5 separate regions of the Homo sapiens genome follow, and regions 1, 2, 4 and 5 are each linked to region 3. The links come from fine-mapping of genetic effects on gene expression. A gene starts in region 3. Each other region holds a variant in brackets. All regions are shown on one strand. Distances are between the middles of the regions.

Region 1 (5,107 bases), 270 kb before region 3:
CTGGTGAATCTACATATGGCTATAACCTTGCTGACCTCTCTGGTCATCAAACCACAGCAGAAGGAGTGCCCCAGATGATGAAGAAATATTATAGTGTTTGGAACACCTTACCTGTCCATAAAATGTTGATGTATTTAAATATCTATATCCTGTGTGCTTATCATTTGTGTTCTTCTTGTGTGTTACAAGTGACTAGATTTTCTCCAAAAAATTCTATAAACCAGGCCCTAAACTGACATTATCTTAGCTTGTGTTTTCTTTAGCTATTTCTACACAGTGAAAGACAGGGCTGATTCTTCTTTCCAATGAATGAAAAAAATAAATTAGGCCAGGTGTGGTGGCTCACACCTGTAATCCCAGCAGTTTGGGAGGCTAAGAAGGGCAGACTGTTTGAGCCCAGGAGTTCAAAACCAGCCTGGGCAACAGGGTGGAACCCCACTCTACAAAAAATAGAAAAATTAGTTGAGCATGGTGGCAGGTACCTGTAGTCCCAGCTACTCGGGAGACTGAGGTGGGAGGATCACTTGAGCCCAGGAGGCCAAGGCTGCAGTGAGCCATGATTGTACCACTGTACTCTGGCCTAGGTGACAGAGTGAGACCTTGCCTCAAAGAAAAAAAAAAGTATATCTTCCAAATGATATTATGTAAGATGTCCTTAAGTATAGTATATAGGAATGTAGTTTAGAACTTCTCTCCCGGAGAGCTGGGGTTCAGGGTGGGCCTGCAGGCCTCCTAGCTTCTCTTTTAAGTATTTTAGGAGGTGAAGTAGACTGTTTTGGGGAAGAATCACTTTCTGAAAAAGGTACCCAGTGTCCTTTGGCTATTCCCTCATAACCCTGCCCAGTCTGAGCTGGTCCTCTCTTTGTCTAGACACCTGACAATTCCAGGGCTCAGAAATGAGAACATAAAAGACAGTTTAAGAAAGATAATATGTTAGAAGGACAAAGGAGGCTGTCCTACATAACGGAAATAAGTGAAGTTAAAAATCAAACTAGAAGCGCCCTATGGCAGATTAAAGATGGCCACAAATTCTTTAACACTCTTCCTTTTGAGAGATGGGGTCTATTTCCCCTCCTTTTGAATCTGAGCTTGCTTGTAACTGCTTTGATGCATGCAGTGTGGCCGAAATGACACTCTGCCCTCTGGGCGTTAACTCTAAGAGAACTGGCAGTCTCCACCTTGGTCTCTGGGAGCTTTGAGCCGCCACAGCTCTGACTGCCTTGCTCAAGAGATCATACGGAGAGGCCCTGAGACTATATGGAGAAGGGGCCAGCTGAGCCCCCTTTCCCACCATCCCCATCAAGGCAGCAGGCACAGAACCCTCCAGAGCAGCCTGGGCACCGGCTGAATACTTCTCCAGTAATGCCAGTGAAACCGTGTGGAGCAGAAGAATCCCCAGCTAAGCCCTGCCTGAATTCCTAATCCACAAAAGTATGTCATATAAATAAATAATTTATTAAAATGGTTATTATTTTAAATCACTGGGTTTGGGGTAACTTGCATGCAGTAATAGATAACCAGTACACAGCCTCTGAGTAGAGTACATAATTTTTAGAATAAAATCTCCAATTGTGGAAAGTGTGATAAATTCCAAATTTTTGTGGTCAGTTAAAAAGAAGATTACATTCTAGGTGTGTATGTTCCACAACATGTATACAGAGAAGAGAAAAGCTAAGGAGAAAAGACATGAATCTCTTGCCTGCTGGCAAAGCTTCCCCAAACAGATATTCTTCCAAAGGCTGCATAGAAGCTGGATCATTGTAAATCTCTCCAACAAATATCTACTGAGTAACTGCTACAAGTACATCACTGTGTTAACCACTAAGGTTTTAATAATGATAAAAATATAATTTCTGCCCTGGGAAATTTTTCTCTCTTGTGTACCATTAGCAAATTAATATGTAAATTTTAAAATTGGTTTAAATCAGAGGTTGACAAACTTTTTCTGTAAAGAGCCAGAGAGTGAATGTTTCAGCTTTGTAGGCCAACTCTGCCAGTGTAGTGCAAAAACAACATTTTAGACAATACATAAACAAATGAAAGCAATGGAATCCCAATAAAACTTTATTTGTGGATGCCAAAATTGGAATTTCACATGATTTTCATGTGTCTTGAAATATTATTCTTCTTTTAATTGTTTTCAACAATTTGAAAATATAAAATTGGTCTTTAATACACAGGCTGTACAAGAGGCAGTGGGCTGAATTTGATCCTCAGGTATAGTTTGCCAACCTCTTTTTAAAATTCTTATCAGATGGGCCTAAAGCAGGTAGAACTTGCAAAAAGTTAAAGAGCATTATCAGACGAATTTAATGTTCTGGATTGTCATGGATACAAATAACCTGCCTTCTATTTCCAGTATTCTCCATGCATAAGGAAGGGCATGAACTTATAGCCTGCAAGAGCAGCTTAGAGTTTTACCAGGGAGGAGCTCTGGGAAGCATCAAGACCCCAGAGGAGGGGAGGACTCAGCCCAAGGAAGGAGAGAAGGAACCATAGAGATGAGTGGGAGGGCACGTCTGCAAAGGCAGCC[G/A]GATGTTGTGCAAACATTCAGCAAGAAGCACTCAAAGAGCGAAAGTGGGACTTCATGGAGAAAGAACAGTGTGACAATATTTTTTAAAAATTTTCCCCCTTTGTAAATTCCTAGTGCCTTCGAGTAAAGCTGTTCATGGAGCATATTTAAGACATCTAGAGCCAAGTAAATTGGAAGCACAGAAATGAATACAGAAGAAAATTTAGGACATCCTTTTTATTGAAAGGAGTTCATCAGGTTGCCACCTACCCTTCCTTTAAATTTTGCTATTCCACTTTATGCTGAAATAAGCTCATTTTGGCAAAAGACTTGCTAAAGACTTGATGCTTTGTATATTAATGTTTTGTATTTGCTTTGTTTTTATATAAAGAGCCTTCAAAAACTATTGTAAAAATTAAAAATATATGCAATAGATCTCCACAGTAACAGTGCACAAACATGCACCCTGCCCCACACCATCCGCCAAGTACGATTATATGATTGCTTAAATGAGCTAACTCAGAAGAAAAAGGAAGTCTGAGACACACACATTTCTACGCTTTGTATTCAGAGATGATGTGTCTCCTGGTGTATATTCCCCCTGCATCCTTCTCATGCTTTCAACGTCATGAAGGTATAAAAGTGTACTCCCTATCACCAGGGTAGCAGCCGTGACCTACATTTTCTTCATGTTCTGATGCTGTTTGTGGCTTCCTCTTCCCTTCAGGCAGCGCATGATGTCTTTGTTCAAAGCACTCTTTCCAATAGCTGATGACTTAGTGTCAGGCAAGTCCACAGCTGTTTCAATCATTCTGTCCACACAGACACCAAACAACAGGAATTAGGTATGCATGGAAACCAACCTAAGATAAGAGTAGTCTGCTCTGGGGAAAAAATAGAAAGTCATTTCACGATATACAGGCAACATTTTGTGTGATTTATTTGACATCAACTGGATGACTAATCGCTGTGGATTTCTTTTCACTCAGATCACATGATTCTTCTCTAGGGTCTCAATCAACTATTTCCATTTTGCTTAACGTAAAAAAATCAGAAGCCTCCAACAGTCAACAGTACCATTTTTAAAGTAAATTTTGTACACCTCCCCCACTCCCCAATCATGCCCTTTTTAATTACTGCTTTCGCTCTCATTAAAAGAATATAAGTTTAAAATTTCGAATGTGGATGTCAAGTTTTGCTGTTATCTTTAGTGTTGTTTTCTATATGAATGAGCCTAGCTTTCACACTATGGACACAGCCTGTTTAGACAAGAGCAGTGCTTATGTAATCATAGCTTCCCAAACCACAGCAACAGCACAAATTTGGCAGCTAGAAGGAAGGAAGTGAGGGTGGGGAAGGGAAAAGGAAAGAAAGGGAGTTTCTGTTTCAATCAAAGATATATTTGGCTCATATTTCCACCTCTTTTAACTGAGATTCCAACTCTACAGGAGGTCCTCTCCACTCATCCCTCCATGCCTGACCTGAGGAGCAGCTTGGCTTTTCCCTCGCTAAGGGAAAAACCTTTAGTACCTTCCTTCTCTACAAACATTAGAAACAGCTTAATCAAGTTGTCCTCAGGCAACAAGGATACTTCAGGCTTTCCAGGTATGACACAGCCTCTTCCCCTCCTATCTGCTAGCCAGCTAACAGCTCTTCCACTACTAGTGCTCTGCCAGTGTGCGTGACTGCCAAAGGCATCTCACTGGCCAAGTGGAAGGAAGCTTTCCTTCCAAGTCAAACATCCAGTCTTCAATGAATAAGCCCTATGTGCTGAAACATGCCTCTTTTCCCCAGTCACCTTACTCTTTAGGAAACTGTGGTAGGCAAGTAAAGACTCCCCAAAATACTTATATTCATATCCTACTCCCTGGAACCTATGAATATGTTGGGTTACATGGAAAAAGGGAACCAAGATGGAATTGAGGTTTCTAATAAGCTGACTTTAGAATAGAGAGATCATCCTCCATTATCTGAGTGGGCACAACATAATCACAAGGGTTCTTAAAAGTGGAAGAGAAAGACAGAAGAGAAGATCAAAGTGATACCATGTGAACAGAACTCAACCAGCCATTGCTGGCTTTGAAGATGGAGAAAGGGGACCATGAGGAAAGGAATGTGGGCAGCCTCTAAAAGTTGGAAAAAGCAAAGAAGAGGATTCTCCCCTAGAGCTTCCAGAAATGTACACAGCCCTGCTGATGCTTTGAGTTTAGCCCAGTAAGACCTGTATCAGACTTCCTACCTGCAGAACTGTAAGACTATAAATTTGTGTTGCTTTAGCTACTAAGTTTGTGGTAATTGTTATAGTAGCAATTAAAAACTAATACAAAAACCATTGGTTCAAGGCAAGTCCATACTGCTTGGGAAGCCACCTTCCATTTATCAAAGACTCTCCATTGAGGCCCAGGTGCACAGCTCATTCCATCTGGGCATGTGGTTCCAAGTCTCTCCATTGTACCCTGGAGATTGACACCAGACCACATCTGCACTGCCATTGCTTACATTTTTCTTTCATGTTGGTCTTCCCTAGAAATTTAAAGAATTACAGATCAAGAAAAGCTGGATGCAGTGTTGCACACCTGCAGTCCCAGCTACTTG
Region 2 (5,107 bases), 78 kb after region 3:
CATACACGATATGTGCTACAAGAGAGTAAACAAAGGATGCCATGACATCAGAGAAGAGACACTTGAGGCTTTCTGGAGGACTTAAGCTTTGAAGAAAACTTAGCCAGGCTTAAAAAGGTATGTGAATCCTAGAGCATGCAAAGCACTTTCTGCATTAGAAAATTTAACATTCCCAGTTGTTTCAGATATCTTAAGCCGAACGAGTTTATTGTTCCTCTATGACTATCTGAACATGAAATTAAAACTTCTTATGAAGGAGGCTTTCCTGAGTCTAGTTAGAAGCACGAGGCTTCAACATCCTAGACTTAACATTTTTTTACCAGAGTAAGAAACCATGAGAGTAAACCACAATCCACACCGGTTTCATGTTAAACTCATGAAACCAGACAAATTCAACCTTTTATATAGGATTATATTTCAGGAATGGCATAACGATTCTAAACAACGACGCTGTATTCTAAATTCCTGTACTGTTACAAAGATCCCTATAGTAGGCGCTCAACAACTGGCGACGGCTTCACATTTACCCAGCCGCCAGAGAGGGCTTGTCTTGAGTGTGTCTGAGGATGCAGCACCCAAAGGGAAAAACCACTACATGAACAAGATCAGGAAATCACAACAGCATCCTTCTGGGTAAAAGGAGGTATTCAGAGGTGAGGAATCCAAGAAACGATTTACCCAAAAACGCCACCGCAAGAGAAAAACCAGTATTAGTGACTTTCCCTTCATCGGTCAACAATAATAAAAACGCTCAGAAAGGCTGCCCCGGACGTCACCTGCGCGTTCACGGACCGCCCCGGGCCGCAGACACCTCTCCAGCGGGGAGCGGCCGGCTCGTCCCGCCCGTCCCACCGCTCAGGGAAGGTTGCGGCCGCGCAGCTCCGCGAAGGTGCCACGGCGGGCCCGACCCTCAGACTCGCTTGTCCCTGGAGACCAACCCTAGCGACCAGGCTCTGCCGGATCCCGTCGGGTTTCAACTCCTATTCCGAAGGTCCTTTCTCCCCTAATCACAACACCCACTCGCCTCTTTTTCCTCCTCTTCCTCAGCTTCCACCGCCGACCGGGCAGCCCCAGTTACCCGATAACGGCTCCCAAGGCCCCGTGTTTACATTCTTTCCCACTGGAAGCAGAAATTATCACGCCCAAATTCCTACCTGCCTTCCCTGGATTCCTGGTTTCCTAAGAAACGGGTTTGGCCCACCCCTGGGCGTTCGAACAGTCCACAGAAGCGGGCAAAGGAAAGACGACTCAGTCTTTCCCCTCCGCCAATCTCTTCTCCGGGACCACAAATCCCAGAAGTCACCGCGGCCGCCCCCACTGCATGACCTTCTGGGATTTGTAGTAGTCAGGGCCACGCGGCTGGGCGCGCCCTCTAGCAGCAGCCCTGAGTGACCGCAGCGCACGAGCGCGGGAAAATGAGGCTGCGCGGGCTGAAGAGCGCACCGAGAGGAGCCGCCCCCGCGGTACCGCGCAGCCTCGCGTCCCGTCAGTGGGGAACAAGGTGAGGGGAAAACTTATTTTACGGGATTCAAAGGATTAGGATATGCTCCTTCCCCGAAGGGGTTTATAGCCTAGCTGATGAGGTCGGCCAGACGCAGAGAACAGAGAGGCAAAATTCGGTTATAAAGGGCTCGAGGCGGCCGGGCGGGGAGGCTAGTCAGGGAGGCTCGAGGCTGAACTGCAGGCTTCACGTTAAAGTTACAAGTGAGTTGGACCCAGAAGGCAGAATTACAGCCAGAACGTAGCTGTGCATCATGTCTTGAAAATAAACGAGCACATGTAATAAAGGTAATCAAGATTGTTAATTTCTCCAACTCTCCTGCCCAAAAGACTCATTTTTGGAAGTCATACTTTCTCAGCCTCAGCACCATTAACATTTCAAACTGGATAATGCTTTGTTGGGGGACGGGGTGTTCTGTGCATTGTAGGGTGCTTAGCAGCATCTCTGGTCTCTGTCCACGGGATGTCACCACCAGTCGATTGTGACAGCCAATGGTTTCCCCAGTGAAATTTCCCCTGGAAGAAAAACTATCCCTCCCACCCTGCCCCGTTGAGAACCACTGATGTCGACCAACGATTGTCCTGAGGGTCAATGACACCCTTTCAAAGCCAAAATTATTTTCATACTAATATGAAGACGTGATTTGCCCTTTGCACAATGCTGACATTTGCACTGATGGTGGAAAAGCAATGGTAGGTCAAGGTGCTGGCCCCTCCACAGGAATTACAGTAATGACACCAAACCGTACTGGAGCTCTTCACCACCACACGCTCACAGTAAGAAAAATGGGCCGGGCGCGGTGGTTCACGCCTGTAATCTTAGCACTTTGGGAGGTCAGGAGTTCGAGACCAGCCTGGCCAACATGGCGAAACCCCATCTCTACCAAAAATACAAAAATTAGCCAGGCCTGGCGGCACGCACCTGAATCCCAACTACTCGGGAGGCTGGGGTGGGAGGATCCCTTGAGCCTGGGAGGTCGAGGCTGCAGTGAGCCGAGGTCATGCCACTGCATTCCAGCCTGGATGACAGAGCAAGGCACGGTCT[C/CA]AAAAAAAAAAAAAAAAATGGAAAAATGAACGCTGTCACCAGAGAATATCCCTGATGAAGTTGTAAAAGTTACTTTATTATAACCACTCCGACACTTAATATTCTTTGTAAAAACTTGGAAGTCCTCACAAAGTACTTCTGCTGCATATTGAAGTATGACGTATCAAAGAAGAGCTACTGTGAGATGGCATTATAAACTGAAGTAAATACTTTTTTTTCCTGGAACACAAATTTTACTAAGATGAGTGACAAACCGGTTATTCGGACTTGGGTATTTGACAAACCTTTCTTGAAAATGAACAAAGGGAATCTGTAACTTCAAGAAAAACAAGGAAAGGGAAAGGGGAAGGGGAAAGGAAAGGAAAAAAGAGAAATAGGGAGGGAGGGAGGAAAGAAAAAAAAATTGAGTTTGTTGCCAATGATAAAATTCAAGATTTTAGGCAAAAAAAAAATATGATTTTGGAAAAATGGTATTCACCATAATGATCTTGGCAGCTTCCCAGTATCTCCAGAATTTTCTGATATAAGTGATTATCAGTTGTGACTTTTATTTACATTGTTTGCTTAAATACATCAATATTTGTGCAGGCTGCATAAGTGAACCAGTAGTATTTGAAAACGATCAATGCATGACTGCGGTAGCCAGCCTCCAAGATGGCATTCACTCCTGGCATTCACATCCTTATGCACTGCCTTCCTATATTGTACCACGGTTGGTCTGTGTTACCTACAGAAGAGGGCAGAAGTGACCGTTTATCACTTCCGATATTAATTATGAAAGACACTAAGATGGTGGCAATGTTTCTTAATCTGCCTAGAGGTTTACATGGTCATGTTTCCTGTGTACCTGAAATACTGAAAACTCATTAAGCCAAATACTCATTTGTGCACTTTTCTGTATATATGTCTATGAAAGTCTTAAATAAGAAAACATGTACCTCCCTAACAAGACATGCAGAGGGAAGATTTATCTTATGGTCACATTCATAGTGTCATTAGTTCATAGTAGCCAATAAGAAGGAATAGAGGTTGCAGAGTGAGTAAATGGTACTTGAAGCTGTGCCCCCTACCTAGGGGTCTTTGCTAAATCTCTCAAGTAACCTAACCCTGATCTCCTCTACTGTGTTTAAGGGTAGCTCCCACTAAGTTTTTATACTTCACCCACTACTTCTCTACTAACTCTGACTGGTCTATGATCTTGATTCACCTAATATATTTAATATATGTCTTATGCTGTCTTTTTAAGACAACATGATCATTTTCCAAAATCCTTTAAATTTATCATAATTTATTGGCATTTACAGTAAATAGTTTATTTACAATAAATAAAAGAGTTCAAAAATTCTGATTTTTCAAACAAGAATTTCTTGGACAATTCTTGTACAGCCAAGGTAAATACCTACAGCAATTTATACATTCCCTAAAAAAACCTTATATACTACTCATAGCACTCTTTAGCAGTTTTCTTTTGTTGTTTTAAAGATAACAGAGTGTCAACAATCTAGCACAAGCCCCTGCCTAATCATGTCATATGGATACAATATTTAATATTAATTGAATTCTAACAGTAGTAGGATTCTAACCAAATCAAGTGTTAGCAACTGATAAATGGCAGTTGCTTTGGCTTTTATTGTATCTATCATGTTTTATTCAAGTGGTTGGTTTTTAGATGAAATCAAGACTCATGTAGTCGAGATAAAAATCACAATGTTTGACAATTTAAATGTGGCCAGGCACTATATTTTATATTTCTAGGTACTTTTTTTGTTGTTGTTTTGGTGGGGTTTTTTTTGAGACAGAGTCTCACTCTTTTGCCCAGACTGGTAGTTCAGTGGCATGTTCTCGGCTCATTGCAACCTCCACCTCCCAGGCTCAAGCGATTCTCGTGCCTCAGCATCCCGAGTAGGTGGGACTACAGGTGCCCGCCACCACGCCCAGCTAATTTTTGTGTTTTTAGTAGAGACGGGGTTTCACCATGTTGGCAGGCTGGTCTTGAACTCCTGACCTCAGGTGATCCACCCACCTCAGCCTCCCACAGGGCTAGGATTACAGGTGTGAGCCACCGCACCTAGCCGGTACATTGTTAGAAAGAAAGGTGCACAGATACTTAGTTTTTTTTTTTTCCACTGAGTTTTCCCAGAGGTTAAAAAACATAAGTACATTGTAACAGATGATAAATGGAGTTTTTCTTTATTATATCATATTTCTAAATCAAGGAAGCTGAAATTATATACTTAAATATACTCTGGTCAAAATATACATGAACCACAAATATTAACTTCTACCTACCAACAATTTACAGTTATGTTGTATGTGGAATTTCATTCTTGTCAGAACTCACAATGGAAATAAAATTTCTATTATGGGTGAGAAGATGAGGGAAAGAATTAAGGGGAAAAAATTTGGACAGCACACACTTTTCTTTCATTCCAAAGGTGCCAGTCAGAACACAGATCCATGGAGTTCCACATCTAGCCCCAGGCTACCAAGCATTAATTCAATGTAAATGGTGTCACTACAACATCAAAAAGAGCAGTGCTAGGCAGAGGATTTTGTATAAAA
Region 3 (5,091 bases):
CCAGCCTCCACAGCAGTAATTTATCACCACATGAAGATGTTGGGGAGTTAATCACAGCACTGACATGTGTCAGCTCCAGGCATTGGGCTCAGCATAAACTTCATGCTTAGAAAATGAAAATAATTAAGAGGGCACACATTTGAAATGTACCACTAAAAAGGGAAGGCAGTCATCTTAGGGTCAGGTGAATGCCATGTTTGTAATCCACTAAACCAACTGGAAGAGCCTGTGGAGGGCAAATGTGTCCAAGGGTACTTTGCTATTTGTACCTGATAGATGCCTTTCACACTGTTTTGAGTCTCTGCATGGCCTGTCATGAAAGAGAAAAGCAAACACAATTTGCACAGGCTTTGCTACATGAATATTAGTGCTTCAGGAATGCTCTAAGATCCTGCCAGCTGCGGCTCAGGAAGGGGTCCAGGCCAGATCTGACTCATCCTGCTGCCTTCCTCCTGGAAATGATCCCCTTTCTCACCCCACTCCTGCTGGCTGAGCCCAGGTCCTGTCTGTCCCATATTTCCTTTGATCCAAGGAAAACTAAAAGTGGTTACTAGCTCCCAAGCGGCCTTTGTTTATAAATGGGTTCCCACCTTAATATGTTTACTCAAAAAACTCGTCAAATAATTAGCTATAACAGAGCAATCAAACTGATCAAACAGTTCTTGGAGTAGTTCAAACCTTCAGAGAGTTATTTAATGACAGTTTTAAATAACTGAACTGGGGTCTTCCAGCATAGAGAAGTAGGGATTGTGGCAGAAACTGCGAGGGAGAATTTTTAAAGTGCTTAGAATAAAAATCTTTTCATTGAAAAAAAATGACAAGAATTGCCCACATAATTATGGCAATTTTTCCTTTCCTTTTGCAATGCAAATTCCTGGCAGAGTGTAAGAGAAACTGAGCTCCACTGTCCCAGTTTTTCAAACTAAGAAAATAAAATAATTTGCTACCTAAACTTTCAACTTCTACTTTTGAAAGCTAAATTTAAGTTTTAAGAATCGTACAACAAAAGAGACTACAGATAAACCTCATTACAATTTTTTAGTATTGAGCATTAGGTTATTTATTTTCCTTCTTCCTAAAGCTACTGTAGAAAGAAAATTCAAAGGACTAGTAAGAAAAATAGCTCAATTGATAACAAGTCTGGTTTGTCAATGACATGCTAATACCTGTAACAGTTACTAATTATCTCAGCAGTGTGTCTCAGTTTTTATATTTAATATATTCTTCATCATTCTTAAATTAATAAATAGCAACCAATTGTTTTCTCTTTTACAAGCTTCATATGGAAAGAAAATTGAAAAAAAAAATTTGTATTAGCAGAAAGTGAATATAAGGGACTTCCCAACCTCCCCTCCATATATTTACTGACAAGCAACTGACATGAGTGATAGCAAAGCAATGTGGTTAGTGAGGAATGGCGCAGAGTGTGCAGTTTCCTTTTTTCTAATGTTGATTTGTTTTCTGTGCTGACACAATCCTAGAGGTTACTGTTCAAAGGAAGCATCGACAACAGAAGTGATTAGAGTACTGATTAAAAGAAGATTTTTAAGAAAATGACCAATCACCATCAATCTTAATATTGGCTAACAAATGTGTATTTTTCTTTCTCATATTATTAAGTAAATAGTATAAACAGAATAATTCTTTATTAGTATATCCATATAGTGCCTTTTGCAAGTAAATATGATTCTGGATATTTTATGACCTGTAATTACTTGAAATCGGAAAGCCCTTTTAGTTTCTCTTATTACCCATGTGTTGCTGAGACTAACTGAAGAACCAGTTAGGAGGTTTGTTCGTTCACGAAATAACATTTAAGAAATGGGTACCTGCTTATCACATAAAAGAATCCAGTTATTTACTTACCCTGTGAGGAGACATAATATGTTAGAATGCTTGTACACTGCAGATGGGAAGAGGTTTTTCCAGGAATTTAAATTGTGCAATAAGGCCACACAATCTTACTTAAAAAAAATGGTGAAGGGGTTTTAATTACACCATGAAGTTTTACAATTTTTTAGGTTTTTAGTTCTGGTTTTAGAAAACAGAGTAGAAGGATTACAGAGAAAAACTTCACCATTAGACAAGAAGTCAAAATGATTCTAAGGGCCGCGCAAACAGGCTTTTCCAAGAATTAATCATGAGGTGGTGCTTGGAGAATTCCTTTACTCCAGTGACTTTGAAACCCCCTTCTCACTCTCCACTAGTCTTTCAAAGGATTCATGGTGAATTGGGTCTAACGAGTATAACACGGCCGGCCGAAGGCATGAAGCTCACGCTACCCTTTCAGGGCGGAGAAGTTCCCAGGAGGAAGAATGGAGAAAAAGATCGCAGTTAGGCAGTCCTCCCAACCTCACCAAGGCTCCACCTCTCTCCAAAGCCGCAAGGCTCTGCCACCTGCGCCGGGAGAGGCTGCAATCACTGTCTCCTCCTCTTTCTTTCTCTTTTTTTTTTTTCTTTTTTGCCTGGGGTGCCCGACCAAGCGCAGCCCGCAGTCTGGGCACTGCCAACTGACTCCAACTCCTTTTATGGTGAGAGGATGGATTCTTCGTTATTTCCCCGCCCAATCTGGTACCCACCCACCCACCCACCTACCACGTCCGCTGGGCGCACCCAAGTCTAACCCCGGGGCGCACGCGCTAGCGCAGACACCGTATTTCTTCTCCTTTCTCGGCCAACCCTAGGTAGAATCCTAAAACAACTGCCCTCTCTTCCACGATCTAGATGTTGCGGCCCGCGGACAGGAGGTTCAAGAAATAGTACACTCCGAGCGGCAGGCAGCGAGGCGGAAACGGTCGCCGGTTTCAGTGGTGGCCCCACTGGAAGCCGAGTTCAGGAGCGGCTAAGCGGTCGCCGGGGAAAGCACCGGGGCTTCCCAGGGTCCCCTCCGAGTTCCCACTCCGCACCTCCGAGGGCGTGAAAACCACGGGAGCCGCCCCACCCCGCGCGCCCAGCCCCGCCCCAGCCCAGACACCGCCCCCCGCCAGTCTTCCCTGCGGCGCCCAGGGAGGACGCGCTCCGCCCCCTTCCAATCCGGCCAATGGGCGCCCGGGCAGCGCGCGGTTTGCCTCCGCCTCCGCCAGGGAAACTTGGAGGAGGAGAAAAGTTTGTACAGAGGGTGGAAAGGCGAGAGCGGAGCTCCAAGCCCGGCAGCCCGAGAGGAAGATGAACAGCCCCAGGCCAGAGCCTCTGGCAGAGTGGACCCCGAGCCGCCCCCAGGTAGCCAGGAGCGGCCTCAGCGGCAGCCGCAAACTCCAGTAGCCGCCCGTGCTGCCCGTGGCTGGGGCGGAGGGCAGCCAGAGCTGGGGACCAAGGCTCCGCGCCACCTGCGCGCACAGCCTCACACCTGAACGCTGTCCTCCCGCAGACGAGACCGGCGGGCACTGCAAAGCTGGGACTCGTCTTTGAAGGAAAAAAAATAGCGAGTAAGAAATCCAGCACCATTCTTCACTGACCCATCCCGCTGCACCTCTTGTTTCCCAAGTTTTTGAAAGCTGGCAACTCTGACCTCGGTGTCCAAAAATCGACAGCCACTGAGACCGGCTTTGAGAAGCCGAAGATTTGGCAGTTTCCAGACTGAGCAGGACAAGGTGAAAGCAGGTTGGAGGCGGGTCCAGGACATCTGAGGGCTGACCCTGGGGGCTCGTGAGGCTGCCACCGCTGCTGCCGCTACAGGTGAGATGGCGTTGGGCTGACGTTGGGGTCAACGGGTAGAGAACGCAGGGATGCGGCCCTCGCCGAAGAGAGCCAAGAAGGGAAGAGCGCGCTCTCCAAATTGCTTTTGTAACTTGTTTTCAGTGAGCATTTTATTGATTCAGAATCTATCGAGAATAGCACTAGCGAGCTACTTTTCCCTTGAGATGGGTCTTATTCATCTTGGCAATGGAGTGAGTTGGATTGTGGGGAGGAAGAGGAATGGGAAAATCAGTTTATAAATATTAATGTCAGCAAGAGTGTGCTGTTGGCAGGACGTATCGCGAGCCTGGAGATTTTGGTGGCCGCAGTTGGTAAGTGGCTACAATCCAGAAAGTAGGATCGAGTTGCTCCCCTTGTCTTATCAGTGTATCGTTTCTCGGGCGCGGGTCTAACACCTTACAAGTGGTAATTTCCGCTCACGGCAGCTTTGTCTCTCTTCTACCATCCCCAGACCCAGCCTTGCACTCCAAGGCTGCGCACCGCCAGCCACTATCATGTCCACTCCCGGGGTCAATTCGTCCGCCTCCTTGAGCCCCGACCGGCTGAACAGCCCAGTGACCATCCCGGCGGTGATGTTCATCTTCGGGGTGGTGGGCAACCTGGTGGCCATCGTGGTGCTGTGCAAGTCGCGCAAGGAGCAGAAGGAGACGACCTTCTACACGCTGGTATGTGGGCTGGCTGTCACCGACCTGTTGGGCACTTTGTTGGTGAGCCCGGTGACCATCGCCACGTACATGAAGGGCCAATGGCCCGGGGGCCAGCCGCTGTGCGAGTACAGCACCTTCATTCTGCTCTTCTTCAGCCTGTCCGGCCTCAGCATCATCTGCGCCATGAGTGTCGAGCGCTACCTGGCCATCAACCATGCCTATTTCTACAGCCACTACGTGGACAAGCGATTGGCGGGCCTCACGCTCTTTGCAGTCTATGCGTCCAACGTGCTCTTTTGCGCGCTGCCCAACATGGGTCTCGGTAGCTCGCGGCTGCAGTACCCAGACACCTGGTGCTTCATCGACTGGACCACCAACGTGACGGCGCACGCCGCCTACTCCTACATGTACGCGGGCTTCAGCTCCTTCCTCATTCTCGCCACCGTCCTCTGCAACGTGCTTGTGTGCGGCGCGCTGCTCCGCATGCACCGCCAGTTCATGCGCCGCACCTCGCTGGGCACCGAGCAGCACCACGCGGCCGCGGCCGCCTCGGTTGCCTCCCGGGGCCACCCCGCTGCCTCCCCAGCCTTGCCGCGCCTCAGCGACTTTCGGCGCCGCCGGAGCTTCCGCCGCATCGCGGGCGCCGAGATCCAGATGGTCATCTTACTCATTGCCACCTCCCTGGTGGTGCTCATCTGCTCCATCCCGCTCGTGGTGAGTGACCGGGGCTGGGGCCCTACTCGGCCTT
Region 4 (5,107 bases), 370 kb before region 3:
ATAATGTAATTAATGAGAGCCTCGCTCTCTGAAAAGTAAACTCTATACACGCAGGAACCACTATTATTTTGTTCAAAATTTTATCCTTAGTGCATAGGCTTTCATGTGACTCTCCATGATGCTTGATTAATTCTTATTGGTTGAATACATGAATTAATGCCAAAAGGGAAGCAGGAATAATTGGAAATGTGTTTTATGTAGATTGGCTTTAAGAGGCCTATAGGAGATTCAAGGGAAGATGCTTAGCAGGTGGTTGAAAACAAAAGCACTCACTTTAGAGTCAAACTGTCAGGGTTTAAAACCCAGCTTAGTTGTTTATTATCTGCATGACTCTAGGAGAATTGTGTGATATCACTCAACTTTAGTTTTTTCTCCTGCAAAATGAAGATGATGATGGCATCTACCTCACAGGTGGTTGTAAGAATTAAATGAGATTATGCGTGTTCACTTGTTAACCCAGTGCCCAGCACATAGTAAGTATACAATGAATGTTGCCATTATTGTTGTTATCACTTTGTGGGTTTTTTTTTTTTTTTTTGAGTTGGAGTCTTACTCTGTTGCCCAGGCTGGAGCACAGTGGCATGATCTCAGCTCACTGCGACCTCTGCCTTCCAGGTTCAAGCAATCCTCCTGCTTCAGCCTCCCAAGTAGGTGGGACTACAGGTGCAAGCCATCACACCCAGCTAATTTTTGTATTTTTAGTAGAAACGGGGTTTCATCATGTTGGCCAGGCTGGTCTCAAACTCCTGACCTCAGGTGATCCGCCCACCTCGGCCTCCCAAAGTGCTGGGATTACAGGCATGAGCCACCATGCCCAGCTTGTTGTTGTTATCACTTTGGACCACAAGAAAATGTTGGAACCCAATACAGGTTTCCAAATCATTCAAGATGGTTGAAGTGATGAGAGTGGTTGAGATGGCCTAGAGAGAGAACACAGAGCAACAAAAGGCCAAAAGAGAGACCTTGAGTAAATGCCAAAAGAATGAAAAGGGATAGGAAAAAAATACAAAGTATTGATAAGATGATTAGAAAAAGGCTAGGGAAGTTTGACATTAACAAACAAGATTTTATTCTTTTCTATTCATTTATTAATTTAAAATAAACCCATTCTTTAGGTTTTAAGTCTTAAAATGTCTGGGAGGCAATATCACTACACAGAGCCAAAGAGCATTTATTGTATTCTGTAGAAATTATCTGTTTTGGCTTGAAACCACTCTTACCAGGTTCAAGATTCTTTTCTCTTCATTATATCAGAGAATAGCTTCCTTGGTACTTAGTTGATCTAAAAATGACACATTTATGGAGGAAAGAAATGGGTGAGTTTTTCACTAAATGGGGTAATGCCCTACATAAACCCCAGGATCTTTTTTTTATCAAGGAATTTTCTGCAGAAAATCAAATGATTTTGAGTGGATGACATTTTTTTATGAATTGAATAACAGCAACAAGAAGCAGCCTGCTAAGTTTGTTTCTTATCTGATTCAATGGATTGTATTTTCATTCCTAATTGCTCTTTATTAGCTCTGACATTTCTAGGTTTCGGGAAAACAAAAAAAATGCGTATTTACTTATGGTATTGTCTACTTTTCTCCTAAGGAAAATAAATGATGGTTCAAAAGCAATCCCTGAGAAATTCATCTCCAAGGGTAGATATCCTACCAAGTGACCATGCCCTCTGTAACCACGGCATATTGGGGATCATCTGGAAATTAAGAACACACACAAAAAAGATTCCTTACATTGCTTGCTTCCAGCTGGTAAACAAACAATTAAGCCTCAGAATCAGAACACATATTCTTTAATTAGATAGGAAAATAACAGTTGGATTATGTTATGACATTTGCTATTAATAAATAACAGTTCTCATAATTTTACAAAGAGTGGATATGACAATTCTAATTATTTTACCACATTGAAAGCGCTGTATCAGAGTCCCATGGGTAGCCAGTCATCTATTTATCATGAATAATTCAGAGAACTATGGCTATAATTCTGATTCAATGCTGATTGAAAATTTAGAGTTGTTAGACAAGATTTCTACAGACTGTTCTCTTGAGTGCTATTTCTGGAATTTGTATCTTTGCATATGCAAATTCTAGAAAGAATGTAAGCAATGAGATGGTTTTGCATTCATTAGTAAAGAACTTTCAGTTTTATCAGAGTCCACATCAACAAATACAACCTGTGTGGAACAGGACATGAAGATCATGTTCAGTTAATATTTGCTGTGCTAATTTTAAAAAATTATCATTATGAACATCTATACAATACCATCTGTCTAATAATATTATACACAGTGGGGGAAAATTCCCTTTTGGACCTTGCCAGTATTTTATAGAGCAACGGCAAGAGTCACAGTTGTTCTGGAAAATATTTCCAAGTCATAGTGACCAGAATTACAAGCTTTGGTTTGGAAGTTGCAACTACTATTTCTCTAAGTTTTCATTTACTTCTCTTTTTTTTTTTTTTTTTTTTGAGACATGGTCTTCCTCTGTCACCCAGGCTGGAGTGCAGTAGGATGATTATGGCTCACTTCAGCCTCAACATCTGGAGCTCAAGTGATCCTCCCACCTCAGCCTCCTGTGTAGCTGAGACTACAGGTGCGCATCACCACACTTGGTTAATTTTTTACTTTTTGTAGAGACAGGGTCTAGCTATGTTGCCACGCTAGTCTCAAACTCCTGGACCCAAGCGATCCTACTGCCTCAGCCTTCCAAAGTGCTGGGAGTACAAGGCATTAGCCACAGCACCCAGCTCTCATTTACTTCAATTACAGATCACTTTATTATCTAAATCACTTTTATCTATTATAGTCTCATATATAATCTGGAATAATTTACAAGTGTCAAACACCACATTTCAGTATTCAGCATGCAAGTCTATTTCATGACCAATTACTTAAATAAATAAACAAAGAAAGAAAGAAAGAAATGGATATAAATAATAATGAAGTGCATGGAATGATAGACAAGAGTTTACCTCCAAAGTTACAATAACCTGTTTGGACATATCCTGTGCAAATCCCTTTCCACTCAGACACATTCTGAGAGGCACT[A/C]AGTGAATTCAGAGAGGATAGAGAATGAAAAAAATTACTCATTTCAGAATTTGCTTATCTTTGACACAATCAACATATCTGATAGCCTGTTACAGACAAGGTACTAAAGGCAAGGCTGAGAGCATGGTCTCTGCCTTCCAGAGGCCCAGAGTCTAGACCAGTTAAATTCATGGAACTATACTCTCCAAATAAATCTACAGTTTACATGGTCTTTTATTTCACCAGCAGGCAAATTTTTGTCCCTGGGCAGCTTCCTAGAACTATTTATAGCCTGAGAACCAATTTATTTCTTCTTAGTAGATTTCTGTTCTCCTTTGAAATCTCAGCAGTACAAACCTGATTAGCAGGGAGGCCAGGTCCAAGTATTAATGAGATAATTATGATTGTTTTCTTATACCAGGCAACCAGCGACTTCTGGCGAGGACCAGTAGGATGAAAAGCAGGAGGTCAAGGGTAAAATGCTGGTTTCCAGAATTACTTGGGCTCTTTTATATCTTCCTTGAAGAAGCAAAATCCAATCATGAAGATCACAAAGACAATAGCACACAGCAGTGGGATGAAGAGCAATGAGTACAGAGCCCTGAGAAGGAAAAAGGACTTGTTAGAAGTTTGTCTGTGGCCTGGCATCCAAGGTTTATGAAACTTTTTTATGCATACACCCTGGCAAATATCTTCTATAACTACAGTGTGTTTAAAAAGAATTTTTTTCCTCACTGGGCATGTTGAGAGGTCACAAAATTCATCATGCTACCACTCAGAAATACATAGAAAATTTAATTTCTTAATTTTCTTTAAATATCTTTCACTTAAGCCCAAGACATTGGTTAGTGGAAGAAAGAGACAAAATGTTCCATTTAGTTTAATGTTTATTGAATCCATTAATTTATATACCTTTCCCTAAAATTGTGAGTGGATGGCACAAGAAGTGAATAGCTTACCTTTCCCTGTGGTGTGAGTCCTCAGGAATGTTCTGGTGCCTATAAGTACCCAGCACCATGCCCTTTGTTCCCCTAGGCAGTAGGCAGTGCTAGAGTTAGCATAAGAAAAAGGCAAAATTGAATGGCTATGGAGAAGTGTTCCAGATAAAGGCAGGCCAAATGAAAGGGCAAGAAGGCAAATGGCAACATGACATATTCAGGGCAACTGCAGATGATTCAATAGAAATGGATGGTAGAAGCTTATATGAGAATGTCAGAATAAATCTGGAAGTGCAAGCAAGGCCTGGAGCCAACGTTTTATCCTGTACATACATGACAGGTATGTATTTTGAACATATCACTCAATGTCTACCCCCAGGCCCCTGTAAACTTGTCTTTACATAATTATCATTTAAAGTTTTTGACTGTCACCAAGGGCTAAGGTAAAAAAATCAAAATAAAAACACTGAACGTGTAATCTGTAAGAATTTTTAGTAAAAAGAAAAAAGGCTTTGAGTAGATAATTTTGTGTGCTTGACTACATTTATAGATATGGTTACCAACCTGCAGGTTGAGGTTCATAATATTATTCAATGCTGTCATAATACATAAAGACATCATAATATATTCACCTCTAATCAAAGGACCAGGAAAAGGTTTGGGTTTTGTTTAATGAGCTAAAATAGGTACATCTTGTAGTTAGACAATAAGAACTACATCATCATCTAGTTTCCCTCTTGCCTGGGCTACTGAGAATCTGAGTATTAAGTTTAAGTTTAATGATGATACTATTCTTAGTCTGAGATTTGTTTTATTTTTGCTTCTCTTCTAGATGTCTGTCCTTCCCAACATTATTACTTTAACTTTTATTCTATGTTACTTGTCTCATCCATGTGCTCTCTATGAGCCATTTTAGACTTCCTCAAAAACTAGCGATTCCTGTGCTACTAGAGATCATAGAATCCTGCCCACTTACTAAGGGGCTTCTTGAGTTCTCAAGCTATATAAATATTTTGGCGGGATCATTTTTTTTCCTCAAAAGCAACATCAAATCTCCAGCTGCTGGGAAATGGTGCTTTTTCCCTATTATTGGAATCAATGAGTCAAGGCATATGTCTTTAATGGAAGTTTTGGC
Region 5 (5,107 bases), 280 kb before region 3:
AATCACAATCTACCACAGAAACCTCAGAGTGAAAACACACTGGGATTGATTCAAAGTGCTTCCTAGTATCCATAACTTATCCATAACCAAGGGTGACCAAAGAAGGGGACTGGAGCCATGGCTCTACCACTACCTATCCCTTATTTGGCATGATCCTCTTATGTACCCAGGTCTGAATGTACATAAAGATATGGTGTAAACAGTGTTTGTTTTGATTGTCCCCTTGGTGACTTGATGTTCTCAAGTCATGGGCTTTGGAGTCACACTAACAGAAGTTCATATTCTAGTTATGCCACTAACTGGTTCTGCGATCTTTAATAAGTTATTTAACCTCTTCAAGTCTCAGTTCCTTTATCTAGAAGGTGAGAATAATAAATCAAGCCCATAAGGTATGGTGACAATAAAGAAAGTATGTAAAACACAGGCATAACATAAGCACCCAATGAAAACAAATTTTTCATTGTTTTTGCTGTTGCTTTTGCTGCTATGGTAATCATTGGCATTATTATCATTATACCAATTGATGTTAAGTTTCTTAAACCCCAGTGAGTTCAGGAATTTCAAGGCAAGGACTACTGCCCCAGCCCATTCCTCTTTTTCTCTTTCATATTTAGGAAATCCCTACATCCTTCTAACTTAGATGAGTGATTTCATAGAAAAATGTTATCATCTTGGTCACTAACCAAGCCACCACCACCAATTTTATGAATATCTTTAAAAGAATGCCCTCCATGACTTAATTTGAAGCCCTAATCCTCATGATGGAAATTTTGGCATTTCAGCAGATTTGCGGTCCTAGAATTTGGAGGTTAGGAGGATCTTTCAGTGGTCCTCCATTCACATTAGCTTGTAAGATGTCACCTAAGAGTAAGAAGAATCAGCTCTTCTAGCATCTTAGTGCTGGGTGAAGAGAGGATAAAGACAATTGAGACAGAGAATTTGGCTAGTGACAACACGTGATTACAAATTTCCACTTTCAATCCCCCTTTCATCCTTCCACCCTTGACACTTGCCAGAGAAATTGCATACTTCCCACAGCCTGAAAAGCCATGTTCCTCTTCCCTCCCTAGGGAAATCTTACCCATTCTTCAAAGATGAACTCAAAAGTAGTTTTCTGTGAAGCCTTCCCTGCTAAACCCAAGTTGAGGGTAATCGCTCACAGAACTTTAGAACTGGACAAAATCTCTGTATTTTTATAGTTAGGGTCCATGTTTTGGAGGTATGATTAAAGAGATTTTAGTAGGAAAAAGGACTGACTGATTCCAGCTGTTGGTATTCTATTTGGAATTATGATTGTTATTTTTAATGCTTTTAAATTGCACTAGATTCTAAGTTGTTGGGGTGGAATCCCTGTTGTACTCAATATTGTCTGTCCATAGCATCTAAAACAGTGCATGAACCGTAGTTCATACTTAATAAATACCAGTTGAATGAATTAACCCTATATTATTAACCAAGCAGGTTTAATAGACACTATTTGCTGCTTCTTATCAATGTCAGCTTAATTGTTCCTCCTGAGTATCCATGGATATCTACCAGCCACATTGATCATGTTAAAGGTCATGAGGAGCAGTTTTACAAAAATCATGTATTACTTAAGTTTTTTTGGTTTTCTTACTATTATTCACTCCAACACAAGAATTTTAAAAAATTGAAATAGAATAATAATAAAAATCAACACGAGTAGTGCTATCTAAACCAAGTGATTTGGTGTACATTTTCTCATTTAATCTTCAGAGCAACTTGTAGTTAACATAATTATTCCCAGTCTACAGAAGGTTAAGCTGAGGATGCTTTGCTCATAATCACATGGCCAAGCAGAGACCATGTTTCTCAGCGCCAACCACATGTCTTTCTTACTTCATTGTTAGATTCACTGTGACTAGGGAGTACATAATCTCTCAAACCCATCCACACTCATTGAAGTCTATGGAAAACAAACTGGAGACAAAAACACCCATAGGCAACAATGAGTTGACTCTTTCTGTGGTTAGTTTTTCTCTGTATTTTTTCAAATCTATTCATTCTTCCTGACTACAGCATCATTTGCCATAGTCTTCTCCTAAGTCAATGTCATACTTCCTCTCAACCACTTGAGAGATTGCAGATCTTTGTCATTCAACATCATTTAATTTCCTGAATAAAGAAACAAAAAAAATGGAAGAGGTTTAGGTATACATCTAGAGTTGATTTTAATTTCCTGTTTGCCCTTGTAATTATGGTTTTTCTTCTTTGCTTTTGAAAACTATAATGAGTGTTTGAAGTATTACAATTACTTTCGATTGCAAAAACTGCAATTACTTTTGCACCGGCCTAATATATGTTCTATGTGGTCTTTCTCATCTTTAAAAGAGCAAGCAATTGATTATAACACAATGGTGTCAACAGCCATTGGATATCTACCAATTATCCAATAGGACAATTTATCTAATGAATTACCTTTTAGGTTACCTATATGCTTAAATTTGGTTACAACACACTTTTACACTGGTATATGTAAGA[T/C]AGAAGAACATACAGCTCAAATCTCGAGTTCTCTTGCTGCCAATATTGATGGAGTTTATGAAAAATTAAAATGATGAAGCATACTTCAGGTGTTCATTTCCAAATGCAATGCATTTTCTATTTTTTCCATTTTAAAAATAATATGCACCCATTGTAAAAAGAAACTTCATCATTATCATCGTTAAATAAACAGAGGCAATTTCCTTCATAACCTCTTCTGTTCCACCTTCACCTCCAAGTCAACTCCCACTCCAGTGGTATTATGTTAATAATTTGTGTGTTTGCGTGTTTGTGTGTGTGTGTGTGTGTGTATACACGTGTTTCCAGGAAGAGACAGAAAAAATGCAGATATATAGAAAGCATGATACACATTTTTAATTTGATTATCTTTGCTTACTAATATATCATAAACGTCTCTCTTACCAGTATAATACAAATTGACCTCATGCTTTTTAATAGCTTCATAGTGTTTTATGGAATGCTTATACTACAAATTTGCTAAATCATTCCCCTACTAGTGATATTTTGACATACATTGACAGATATTTTTAATTTTTTTTATTGTGTGACAATCCACAGAGGACATCTTCATGTTTACATCTTTGTGCTCATTTGGGCATTACTACTAAAGAAAGTCTTAGACAAAGAATTCCTGATTCAAAGTGTATGCATTTTTAAAATGCAAGTCATGAGCTTTAGAGTCACACTGACAGTTCATATTACTTTCTTACTTCATAAGCCTGTTCAATTACCCTCCAAAGGGCTATGAAAATTTCTGCTTTCCACACAATGTATGAGTCGCCTTATTTCTTTACACCCTCACAGTGTGGATATCATCAACTGGCTTCACTTGAATTCCCCTGAAAGCAGGTCCTGAGACAAAAATGTGAAGGCAATACAGATGGTCACTGACTTCCAATGATTCCACTTATACTTTTTCAACTTTACAATGGTGCACAAACTATAGACATTCAGTAGAAAACAGTGTGATTCTCTCACATGATGCTGGGCCATGCAGTAAGCTGCAGCTCTCACTCAGCCACACAAAGGTAAAAATACCAGTACTGTACAGTACATTGTGTTGCCAGATGATTTTGCCCAACTATAGGCCAATGTAAGTGTTCCAAGCATGTTTAAGGTGGGCTAAGCTAAAGTATGATGTTTGGTAGGTTAGGTATATTAAATGCATTTTTGACTTAGTCATATTTTCAACTTACAATGGTTTATCAGGACATAACCCCATTGTAAATGGGGGAGCATCTGTAGTTTATTTTGAAGTTAATTCCAGGAATCACTATGAGGTTGCAAGGAGTAAGACAAGAAGTGGGGAACAAATAGACAGAACATTGACTAGCCAGTTACCTCTATTCGTAGTGTGGTCAACTATCACAGTTTGCATGGAATCAATGGGGTGTCCCAGGACACAGAATTTCCAATGCTAAAATTGGGACAGTTCTAGAAAAGCAGAGATAAGTTGGTTACCCTACTGTATGGGCAATTGGGCTCAATTATTCTGGAGACCCATGGAAAGGCCATATGGAACACAACTTAGGATTGTTCCAACAAAAGGCAAAGATGTGAAGTATTTATTCACCAGCCCTTAGTAGTTTGGAGGTACTCCAAGGCATTCTGGCTCAGTTACTTCCCATCTGACCTGTGCAGGGACAAAGCATGCTCCTGTGTCCAAAGATAGCCCACTGGAGGAAAGGTGCAGGAATTTGTTGTCATGTCTGAGAAATGTCTGCAGACAAACTCTGGGATCGGCCAAAAGGATGTGGGGGTGGGAGTGCCAATACCATCTATGCATGATTATTTGTCCCTAGTCTGATCAGCAAAATGATGCTATCTCAATATTGTTCTCATTTACATTCTCTAATGAGTGGGAATTTTGGACATAACTTCATATTTGCATCCCTTTTTGAGACTCAAGTTTTCAAGCATTTAAATACAGTTTTAGGGTAGGTTATTTTCTTGGCCTGGGACAACCAACTTCCATAATAGAAAAAAAATTTCAATCAGTTTACCTAAAATATGTGTGTATTGGAATGGAATGGGATGGGATAGGGGAGCAGGGTAAACTCTTCCAGGTGAATTAAAGGTGAGAATTAATGATTTAATTATAGTATTTTCAAGGCCACAATCCTTGTTAGACTTTCCTTTACCTTATTTTTAAAAAACTGTACATATGTATGGGGTAAGTATATACATATGTGTCATTATACATATTTATCATGTACATATTATCATATATTGTATACATATACATATCATTATATATTGTACAGTTTTATGTACAGTTTTTTAAAAAGGTACGTATGTATGGGGTACAATGTATAGTGATCAAGTCAGGGTAGTTAGTATATCCATCACCTCAAATACTTATCATTTCTTTGTGTTGGGAATATTTCAAGTCTTCTCCTCCAGGTATTTTGAAATATACAATAAATTATTGTTAACTATAGTCACCCTACAGTGCTGAAGCGGAATTGAGCTCCTTAAGTTTTGTACATCATGTTTTTTTAGGTTCCCACTGAGCTGATTTTTGGCCATGATTCACACATATCTCTCCTCCAAGGCTCCTCTCACAAAGCATTTCCTCCCAGTC

The links. PIP is the estimated chance that this variant, and not a neighbour inherited with it, causes the effect.
Region 1: its variant is fine-mapped to the expression of PTGER4 in whole blood (TOPMed, PIP above 0.99).
Region 2: its variant is fine-mapped to the expression of PTGER4 in whole blood (INTERVAL, PIP above 0.99).
Region 4: its variant is fine-mapped to the expression of PTGER4 in whole blood (INTERVAL, PIP above 0.99).
Region 5: its variant is fine-mapped to the expression of PTGER4 in whole blood (TOPMed, PIP above 0.99).

What each region holds. Positions count from the first base shown.
Region 1 is chr5:40,407,280-40,412,386 of GRCh38, forward strand. No RefSeq gene overlaps it. Among named protein-coding and RNA genes, the nearest start is that of LINC00604, 170 kb to the left of the region's middle. The variant G/A (reference allele first, on the strand shown) is at 2,534.
Region 2 is chr5:40,754,670-40,759,776 of GRCh38, forward strand. TTC33 (tetratricopeptide repeat domain 33) reads right to left here and starts at 1,292. Exons shown (of 5, transcript NM_012382.3): 1 at 1,155-1,292. It overlaps PRKAA1 (protein kinase AMP-activated catalytic subunit alpha 1), which reads right to left. Exons shown (of 9, transcript NM_006251.6): 9 at 4,720-5,107. RefSeq lists an enhancer at 1,166-1,315. The variant C/CA (reference allele first, on the strand shown) is at 2,546.
Region 3 is chr5:40,676,804-40,681,894 of GRCh38, forward strand. It overlaps PTGER4 (prostaglandin E receptor 4), which reads left to right and starts at 3,112. Exons shown (of 3, transcript NM_000958.3): 1 at 3,112-3,675; 2 at 4,148-5,057. The coding sequence starts at 4,191. RefSeq lists a silencer at 2,775-2,994 and an enhancer at 4,130-4,657.
Region 4 is chr5:40,304,991-40,310,097 of GRCh38, forward strand. LOC105374736 (a long non-coding RNA gene) reads right to left here. Exons shown (of 4, transcript XR_001742649.2): 3 at 3,994-4,082; 4 at 1,783-3,635. Among named protein-coding and RNA genes, the nearest start is that of LINC00604, 67 kb to the left of the region's middle. The variant A/C (reference allele first, on the strand shown) is at 3,056.
Region 5 is chr5:40,396,295-40,401,401 of GRCh38, forward strand. No RefSeq gene overlaps it. Among named protein-coding and RNA genes, the nearest start is that of LINC00604, 160 kb to the left of the region's middle. The variant T/C (reference allele first, on the strand shown) is at 2,503.